2 linked regions of the Homo sapiens genome follow. The protein of the gene in region 1 purifies or fractionates together with the protein of each later gene. This does not show direct contact. Each region holds a gene or a part of one and is shown on either strand. Other genes may lie near its edges.

Region 1 (2,616 bases):
TCAGAGCTATTTTGTTCCATCATATAACTGTCCTTTGCCTAGTATTTCTGGTATGTCTCCTTCCCAACCCCATCATCCTCTTGTTTAATGCTTTAATTTGTTAGGAGTCTAATTTTAAGCAGTCCGTTTGAAAGCAGAGTGCTAGTGAAAAGACTGACTGGTTTCAAGAGATGCTACTAGTGGACAGTGAATTTTGATATTTAGCCTTGGGTAGGATGGGCATGGAGATAATGGTGATGCATTGAACTTGGGTCTTTATCAGACAACCTAACTATTGGGTGAGGGTATGAGGAGGACAAGATGAGGAGGACAAGATGAGGACGAGGTTATCTAATCCTCACACTTGTACCCCCAAACCTTCCTCCTGCACCCAAGGCAGATATCACGAATTATTCCCACCTGTACTCCTCCCCGAGGCTGCCATCCCACTGAATCAGAGTTGGCAAGCCATCTGGAACCTTGTGACCATCCCGAGAGTAAGTCCTTGCCCCACAGACCACCAAAAGATCACCTGTCTTTATGACGATGAATATTTTATTATAGAGATGGACTGAACTCACTTTTGCATAAAGAATCTCTGAATTGGGTCAGGGAAATCCACCCGCTAAGAGGTCACCACCCAGCTATCCCTGCCTCTGCCTCAGCCCCCACTTGCTGTTTACATCTCAGGGTCACTAGAAACAGCAGAGCCTGCTGTTCCCAGGGCCAGGCTGGTGGGGTTGGGCCAAGGGTCAGGGATCCTGGCTGCCTGCCAGATCAGAACCGCCCCGTCTCCCGCCCCAGTCGGTTGTCCAGAACCTGGAGCTGCCGGAGGAAGCCTGAGTTAGGGCAGATATTGCGGTGGGCCTGCACCGTCTGGATGGCCTCTACCAGCGTCATGTTCTCACAGATCATGAGGAAGGCCAGGACAAGTGTGGCAGAGCGGCTTACCCCCATGGCACAGTGTACCAGCACGCGGCCTGTAGGGAGAACCAACTTAGCATCAGCTACCTGCCCTTGAACCACCCACCCCTTTGGGAAGAAGAGACACCCATGGCCATCCTCTACAGTATCCTGGAATACTGACACTGTCTACTCTGTCAAATGGGGCAACTGAAGCCCAAAGAGAGGAGGCTGGCTCAAAGTCACATAGCAAGTTAGAGGCAGGGTTTAGGTTAGCAGCCGGGATTTCCTTCTTCCAGTCCAGGTGCTTCCTCAGGCATCCTTTGCAACTCTGGGCCAGGGGAAGGGGGTTTACTGAATTCCTGAGGTCACTGGGTTTGCATCAGATTATAGGGGGTGTCCATCTACCTCCCTTTCCCCCGAGTTCTGCCCTCTCGACTGCCCCTGCAGCTCTATGCCAAGGCCTCATCTTAGAGGAACCCGCTCAAGAGCTTCACTGGGTCCTATACCTTCTGTCCAGTGCCTGGCCTCTTATGGAGGGATGTGGTGATGCTGATGACCACACTGCATCTTAGTTATGTCTGCAATTGCTAGCCTCCAGGGTGTCCCTGAAGGGGACACTCACTGAATGGTAGTAGCTATTTTCCCTATGGAGTGGGAGGGTTACTGAAAGGGTTTGTCTCTCTGGACTCCCACCCACCAGTGCTACTGGAATAATGGAGAGTCCTAAAGCACACCCTCCACCCTCCACCATGCCTGATCCAGAAGTGCACCTTGGGGAACACTGAGGGCAGCTCGGATGTATCGAGCAACAGGCAGAAAGTAGACACTGAGGTCGAAGAAGGGGTTGTCGTCCGCCTCGATGCCATAGTACTCCAGGGACATTCCACGGTAGAATTTGGCACCTGTGTCCACCTGGAACTTGCCTGCAGCGGCATTCACAACGTGGGTGATTCCCAGCTGGATCAGCTTGCTCTTGTCCCGGGCTGCGTACCTGGAGGAGAGGGCACAAGGGGTTAGGAGAGTGGAGGTAGATCTCACTGTGGCAGCTCTGGCTGGGTTGAAGTTTGCAAACACCCCCGCCCACCACCCACCAAGGGTAGAGACAAGAGCCTGCAAATTGGCCCAGGGTGAAGGGGCTCCTCCTGTTGGAGTTTAAGACTCCTTTTCGGGCTGGGTGCGGTGGCTCACGCCTATAATCCCAGCACTTTGGGAGACCGAGGTGGGCAGATCACTTGAGGTCAGGAGTTTGAGACCAGCCTGGCCAACATGGTGACACCCCATCTCTACTAAAAATACAAAAATTAGCCAGGCATGGTGGTGGGCACCTGTAGTCCCAGCTACTCAGAAGACTGAGTCAGGAGAATCACTTAAACCCAGGAGGCGGAGGTTGCAGTGAGCCAAGATTATGCCACTGCACTCTAGCCTGGGCAACAGAGCTAGACTCCATCTCAAAAAAACAACAACAACAACAAAAAATAGACTCCTTTTCAGGCCAGGCACTGTGGCTTATGCCTATAATCCCAACACTTTGGGAGACTAAGGCGGGAGGATTCATTGAGCTCAGGAGTTCGAGACCAGCCTGGGCAACATGGCAAAACCTTATCTCTACAAACAATGCAAAAATTAGCCAGGCATGGTGGCATATGCCAGTAGTCCCAGCTACTTGGGAGGCTGAGGTGGGAGAATCACCTGAGCCTGGGAGGTTGAGGCTGCAGTGAGTGGAGATTGCAC
Region 2 (7,039 bases), on another chromosome or scaffold:
CTTTTGCTTTTCCATTTTTGAAAATTTCACAATAGGCTCAGTGTACTGAGCAAGTACCAAATTCATATCGATTTTACAAAAAAGATAAAGTTCTTTAAAAGTAGTACATCTCTGTAGAAGATTATCCTATTTTTTGGGTTTTTTTTTTTTTTTTTTTTTTTTTTTGAGACCGGGTCTTGCTCTGCCTCCCAGGCTCAAGCAATCCTCCCACATCAGCCTCTGGAGTAGCTGCGGCTACAGATGCACCCTACCATACCGAGCTAATTTTTGCATTTTTGTATTTCATATTTTTTCTCTACAAGAGATGGAGTTTTGCCATGTTGCCCAGGCTGGTCTCAAACTCCTGGCTCAGGTTATCCACCCGCCTCATCCTCCCAAAGTTCTGGGATTACAGGCCTAAGCCACCACACCCAGCCTTAGTCTTACTTTCAAGCTTATTCAGAGTTAGGACTGTCAGTGCTTATGTTCTTGATTTACTTGGCTTTGTTAAACGTGTCAAACTCTACTTCACCTTTTCTGCAGCAGTGAAAAGATTAATGAGCAGTGCCATCCAATAGAAATATAATGCAAACATATATGTAATTTTAAATTTTCTAGTAGCTACATTTAAAATGGCCAAAAGAAACAGGTGAAATTAATATATTTACTGAGTATATCTAAGATCATTTAAACATGTGTTTTCAAAATGAAAAATAATATTGAGGCCGGGCACGGTGGCTCACGCCTGTAATCCTCGCACTTTGGGAGGCCAAGGTGGGCGGATCACCTGAGGTCAGGAGTTCAAGACCAGCCTGGCCAACATGGTGAAACCCCATCTCTACTAAAATACAAAAATTAGCCGGGCATGATGGCTGATGCCTGTAATCCTGAGACGGGAGAATCGCTTGAACCCAGGAGACAGTGGTTGCAGTGAGCCAAGATTGCACCACTGCACTCCAGCCTGGGCAGCTGAGTGAGACGCCGTCTCAAAAAAAAAGAAAAATAATGAGATTACATTTTTCCCTCCATTAAGTCTTCAGAATTCAGTGTGTTTTTACCAGCATATCTTAGTTTGGGGTAGCCACATGTAGCTAGTGGCTATCATGCTGGATAACCTGTTACTGAGAGAGCAGCCCCGCTTTGGTTAGCCTGGCATCCATTCACAGGCATCCTTTCCCACCTCTTGAAATGGAAAAGGAGATCATCCTATCAAAGGCTACTCCATCACTGACTGGGTTCCCGCTCCTCTTCTGACTCTGGGCATTTTATTCAGATACTCCCTGTATTTTATCTTTGGCCTCTCCCACTGCATATGTCTTCCTCTCCTAGATCACTCCCATCTTCAAAGAAAACCTTCCTTGTTTTCTACATTTGCCTGCCTCTGGTCTCTATAATGAAACCTGCTTAAAGAGTTACCTATATTCTCTCCAACCTTCTGCAGACTGCATGCCTGTTATTTTCACTCCACCACAACTGCCAGGGCTCCCAGTGACTTCTTTGTCACTAAATCCAATCAGTAGATGGTTTTAAGTCTTTGCTACTTTATCTCCCAGTAGCATTTGTTAGTGTGGCCCCTTCCACATGTATCTTGGTTTATGTGACACCACTCTGGATAATTCTCCCAATCCACCTTCCACATGGCAACTGGAATACTCCTTCTAGAAAGCATAAATCTATTCTTTCCTCTGAATGATAACCCTTTAGTGGCTTCACTATTAGTAAAATTAACAGTTTTATAAGTTCTTACAGTATTGGCTATATCTGTGATTCAAATGCAGTGTAAATCTTGAATACCATAATTGTTCATTCATACCTATAGCGTACAGAACCACTTTATCTTGAGCACTAAAAAGACAGCATGGTGTAATAGGAAAAGCTTGGAAATGGAGAGCTGCCCTGCCCCTTATATGTATGACCATAGATGGGCCATTTGGTCTAGACCTTTATTTACAAAATGGGGATAAGTCCTACTTTCTAGTTAGTAATGCTGTCAAAAATTAAGTGATCTAACATTTGATAGTGATTTGAAAAATTGAACGTGTTGTATGATGGAGGATTTAGCAGTAAAACAATGAACAATGGTGTACACTCCTTCCAGAAAAAGTGTACCATTTAGTTATTCCAAAAAGGTCCATTTGAAATCTTCCAAATTCTAATTGTGAAGCAAGCATGTGAAAATGTAACTAAGATGGCATGTACACACACTACTTGAGAACACAGGCCAGTCTCACTTATAATTTGCTATATCAACAAATTAAAAGGAAGAAATGATATGATCAACTTCAGAGATGCTGAAAAGACAGGAATAGATAGAAATTTCGTTAACATTGTAAGTACATTTTGGCCTGGCGTGGTCACTCATACCTGTAATCCCAGCACTTTGGGAGGCAGAGGCAGGAGGATCACTTGAGACCAGCCTGGGCAACACAGGGAGACCCTGTCTCTACAAAAAATTTAAAAGTTAGCCAGGGATGCACCTGTAGTCCCAGCTACTGGGGGTGCTGAGGTGGGAGGATCACTTGAGCCCAGGAGGTCAGGGCTGCTGCAGGGAGCTGTGTTTGCACCATTGCACTCCAGTCTGGGTGACAGATCAAGACCCTCTCTCAAAAAAAATTAAAAAGTGTATTTATTTCAATCCAAAAGCCAGCATGATGCAAATAGGAAAACCTTGTTGAAGTCAAGAATAGTCTGAGGATATTCCATTATTTACCTTGTTCTAGAGGTAATCAGCAAATTTTTGTATATTGTCATGTGTTGCTTAACATTAGAGACGTGATCTGAATTATGATCAACTTCAGAGATGCTGAAAAGACAGGAATAGAAATTTCTTTAATTGCTATTGTATCAGACGATTTCTTCATTGTGAATAACATCAGTGTGTACTTAATACAAACCTAGATGGCATAACTTACTAAAAACCTAGGCTACATGGTATAGCTTATTTCTCTTAGGTTATAAATCTGTTCGGCATGTTACTGTACTGAATATTGTATGCAGTTGTAACACAATGGCAAGCATTTGTGTATCTAAACATAGAAAGGGTGCAGTAAAAATATGATATAAAAGATTAAAATAGTACACCTGTACAGGACATTTACCGTGAATGCAGCTTGCATGACTGGGGGTTGCTCTAAAAATTTTATTTCTTGGATAATAGATTAACCTTAATTTACTGTAACGTTTTTCTTTCTTTCTTTCTTTCTGTCTTTATTTTTTAGGAGATGTGGTTTTGCTATTCTGTGTTGGCCAGCCTGGTTTTGAACTGCTGGCCTCAAGCAGTCCTCCCACTTTGGCCTCCAAAGTGTTGGGATTATAGGTGTGAGCCATGGCATCTGGTCAACATTTTACTTTCTAAACTTAATTTTTTTTTTTTAACTTTTTGGCTCTTGTAAAAACACTTACCTTAAAACGCATTATACAAAACAGCAGTACAAAAATATTTTCTCTCTTTTTTTTTTTTTTTTGAGACAAGGTCTTGCCCTATCAGGCTGGAGTGAGTGGTGCATCACAGCCCACTGCACCCGTAGCCTCGACCTCCCTGGGCTCAGTGATCCTCCCACCTCAGCCTCTCGAGTAGCTAGGACTATAGGCATGCACCACCATGCCTGGCTAATTTTTGTACTTTTTTTAGAGAGGGGGTCTCACTATGTTGCCCAGGCTGGTCTTGAATTCCTGAGCTCAAGCGATCTGCCTGCCTTGGCCTCCCAAAGTGCTGGGATTACAAGCATGACCCATAGCACCTGGCCAGTATTTTCTTTTATATCCGTATTCTGTAAGGTTTTTTTCGTTTTTTTTTTTTTTTTTTTAATTATACTTTAAGTTTTAGGGTACATGTGCCATGCTGGTGCACTGCACCCACTAACTCCTCATCTAGCATTAGGTATATCTCCCGATGCTATCCCTCCCCCCTCCCCCCACCCCACAACAGTCCCCAGAGTGTGATATTCCCCTTCCTGTGTCCATGTGATCTCATTGTTCAATTCCCACCTATGAGTGAGAATATGCGGTGTTTGGTTTTTTGTTCTTGCAATAGTTTACTGAGAATGATGATTTCCAATTTCATCCATGTCCCTACAAAGGACATGAACTCATCATTTTTTATGGCTGCATAGTATTCCATGCTGTATATGTGCCACATTTTCTTAATCCAGTCTATCATTGTTGGACATTTGGGTTGGTTCCAAGTCTTTGCTATTGTGAATAATGCCGCAATAAACATACATGTGCATGTGTCTTTATAGCAGCATGATTTATAGTCCTTTGGGTATATACCCAGTAATGGGATGGTTGGGTCAAATGGTATTTCCAGTTCTAGATCCCTGAGGAATCGCCACACTGACTTCCACAATGGTTGAACTAGTTTACAGTCCCACCAACAGTGTAAAAGTGTTCCTATTTCTCCACATCCTCTCCAGCACCTGTTGTTTCCTGACTTTTTAATGATTGCCATTCTAACTGGTGTGAGATGGTATCTCATTGTGGTTTTGATTTGCATTTCTCTGATGGCCAGTGATGATGAGCATTTTTTCATGTGTTTTTTGGCTGCATAAATGTCTTCTTTTGAGAAGTGTCTGTTCATGTCCTTCGCCCACTTTTTGATGGGGTTGTTTGTTTTTTTCTTGTAAATTTGTCTGAGTTCATTGTAGATTCTGGATATTAGCCCTTTGTCAGATGAGTAGGTTGCGAAAATTTTCTCCCATTTTGTAGGTTGCCTGTTCACTCTGATGGTAGTTTCTTTTGCTGTGCAGAAGCTCTTTAGTTTAATTAGATCCATTTGTCAATTTTGTCTTTTGTTGCCATTGCTTTTGGATACAAAATCAATGTACAAAAATCACAAGCATTCTTATACACCAACAACAGACAGAGAGCCAAATCATGAGTGAACTCCCATTCACAATTGCTTCAAAGAGAATAAAATACCTAGGAATCCAACTTACAAGGGATGTGAAGGACCTCTTCAAGGAGAACTACAAACCACTGCTCAAGGAAATAAAAGAGGATACAAACAAATGGAAGAACATTCCATGCTCATGGGTAGGAAGAATCAATATCGTGAAAATGGCCATACTGCCCAAGGTAATTTACAGATTCAATGCCATCCCCATAAAGCTACCAATGACTTTCTTCACAGAATTGGAAAAAACTACTTTAAAGTTCATATGGAACCAAAAAAGAGCCCGCATCGCCAAAGCAATCCTAAGCCAAAAGAACAAAGCTGGAGGCATCACACTACCTGACTTCAAACTATACTACAAGGCTACAGTAACCAAAACAGCATGGTACTGGTACCAAAACAGAGATATAGATCAATGGAACAGAACAGAGCCCTCAGAAATAACGCTGCCTGTCTACAACTATCTGATCTTTGACAAACCTGAGAAAAACAAGCAATGGGGAAAGGAATCCCTATTTAATAAATGGTGCTGGGAAAACTGCCTAGCCATATGTAGAAAGCTGAAACTGGATCCCTTCCTTACACCTTATACAAAAATCAATTCAAGATGGATTAAAGACTTAAACGTTAGACCTAAAACCATAAAAACCCTAGAAGAAAACGTAGGTTTTTTTCGTTTTTAAAGTTTGTTTTAGTTTTTTAAACTTTTTTGTCAAAAACTAGGACACAGGGCCGGGCACGGTGGCTCACGCCTGTAATCCCAGCACTTTGGGAGGCCGAGGCGGGCGGATCACAAGGTCAGGAGATCGAGACCATCCTGGCTAACACAGTGAAACCCCATCTCTACTAAAAATACAAAAAATTAGCCAGGCGTGGTGGCAGGCGCCTGTAGTCCCGGTTACTCAGGAGGTTGAGGCAGGAGAATGGCGTGAACCCGGGTGGCAGAGCTTGCAGTGAGCCGAGATAGCGCCAATGCACTCCAGCCTGGGTGACAGAGCAAGACTCTGTCTCAAAAAAAAAAAAAAACACAAAAACTAGGACACAAACACGCACATTAGCCTAGGTCTACTCAGGGTCAGAGTTATCAAGGCATCACAAGGTGATAGGATTTTTTAAGCTCCATTATAATCCACAGGACCACCCTCATATATGTGTTCTCTCCTTGACCCTGTGGATGTGACTGTATATGTAAATTTAAAAGGTGAAATTTTGATAGTAATGCCATTTCAGAGAACTTTTGGGTTCTTAAGATACTAGTAAGTTCAGAATTTGTTTTCCTAAATTATTGTTGTAAATTGCATGTAAGTTTCCAGAGTTGCTAATGAAAATGCTCTTGATCCACAATGTGGCAGAACTGTGTGGTCAGCAATACAGTCGACACTGTATCCTGTCTTTATAAGGTTGTTCACACGAACAGTGTTTCTGATAATGTGTTATGGATAGTATTAAGAGAAATAAAACTATTTATAAAAATAAACATTGGCTGGGCGCCATGGCTCATGCCTGTAATCCCAGCACTTTGGGAGGCCGAGGCAGGCGGATCACCTGAGGTCAGGAGTTCGAGACCAGCCTGACCAACATGGAGAAACCCTGTCTCTATTAAAAATACAAAATTAGCCGGGCGTGATGGCACATGCCTGTAATCCCAGCTACTTGGGAGGCTGAAGCAGGAGAATTGCTTGAACCTGGGAGGCGGAGGTTGTGGTGAGCCAAGATCATGCCATTGCACTCCAGCCTGGGCAACAAGAGCGAAACTCCGTCTCAAAATATAAATAAATAAATTACCATTGCCCTTGAAAGAGTCACAATCTAGTGGAAGAGACAATAATTATTTTCCCTTCAAAAATATATTTGAATAAAGATAATGTGCTAATAATTGCAACTGAATAACATGAGGAATGATTACTACGTGATTGCCCAGGGTTACACAGGCAGAAGTGACCTCCCAATTTTTCAGCGTCCATGCCATAAAATGACAGTAGTACTGCCTCATGGAGCGGTTGTAAAGAACAAAGACGTTGATACATGAAAGCCACTAAGAATAATGCTTCAGCCTTTTTCCAGTGCAGCCCAAGGAGTGGGAGTGGGGACCGTCCGTTCCTTTCTTGCTCAGCGTTGCAGCAATGGGAGTGAAATTCCAGGGGCTCCAACTGCAGCAGGAAGGGC

Evidence for each region.
Region 2: the proteins of DUSP13B (region 1) and PDIA6 purify together in Homo sapiens (affinity purification with mass spectrometry, with the first as the bait; 2 studies listed by BioGRID). This does not show direct contact.

What each region holds. Positions count from the first base shown.
Region 1 is NC_000010.11:75,093,920-75,096,535, forward strand, and holds the end of DUSP13B (dual specificity protein phosphatase 13B), read right to left. Parts: intron 1,877-2,616; coding exon 1,656-1,876; intron 960-1,655; coding exon 757-959; 3' UTR 517-756; downstream 1-516. UniProt on the Homo sapiens protein: Dual specificity phosphatase that dephosphorylates MAPK8/JNK and MAPK14/p38, but not MAPK1/ERK2, in vitro. Exhibits intrinsic phosphatase activity towards both phospho-seryl/threonyl and -tyrosyl residues, with similar specific activities in vitro.
Region 2 is NC_000002.12:10,802,772-10,809,810, reverse strand, and holds part of PDIA6 (protein disulfide-isomerase A6 isoform d precursor), read left to right. Parts: intron 1-7,039. UniProt on the Homo sapiens protein: May function as a chaperone that inhibits aggregation of misfolded proteins. Negatively regulates the unfolded protein response (UPR) through binding to UPR sensors such as ERN1, which in turn inactivates ERN1 signaling.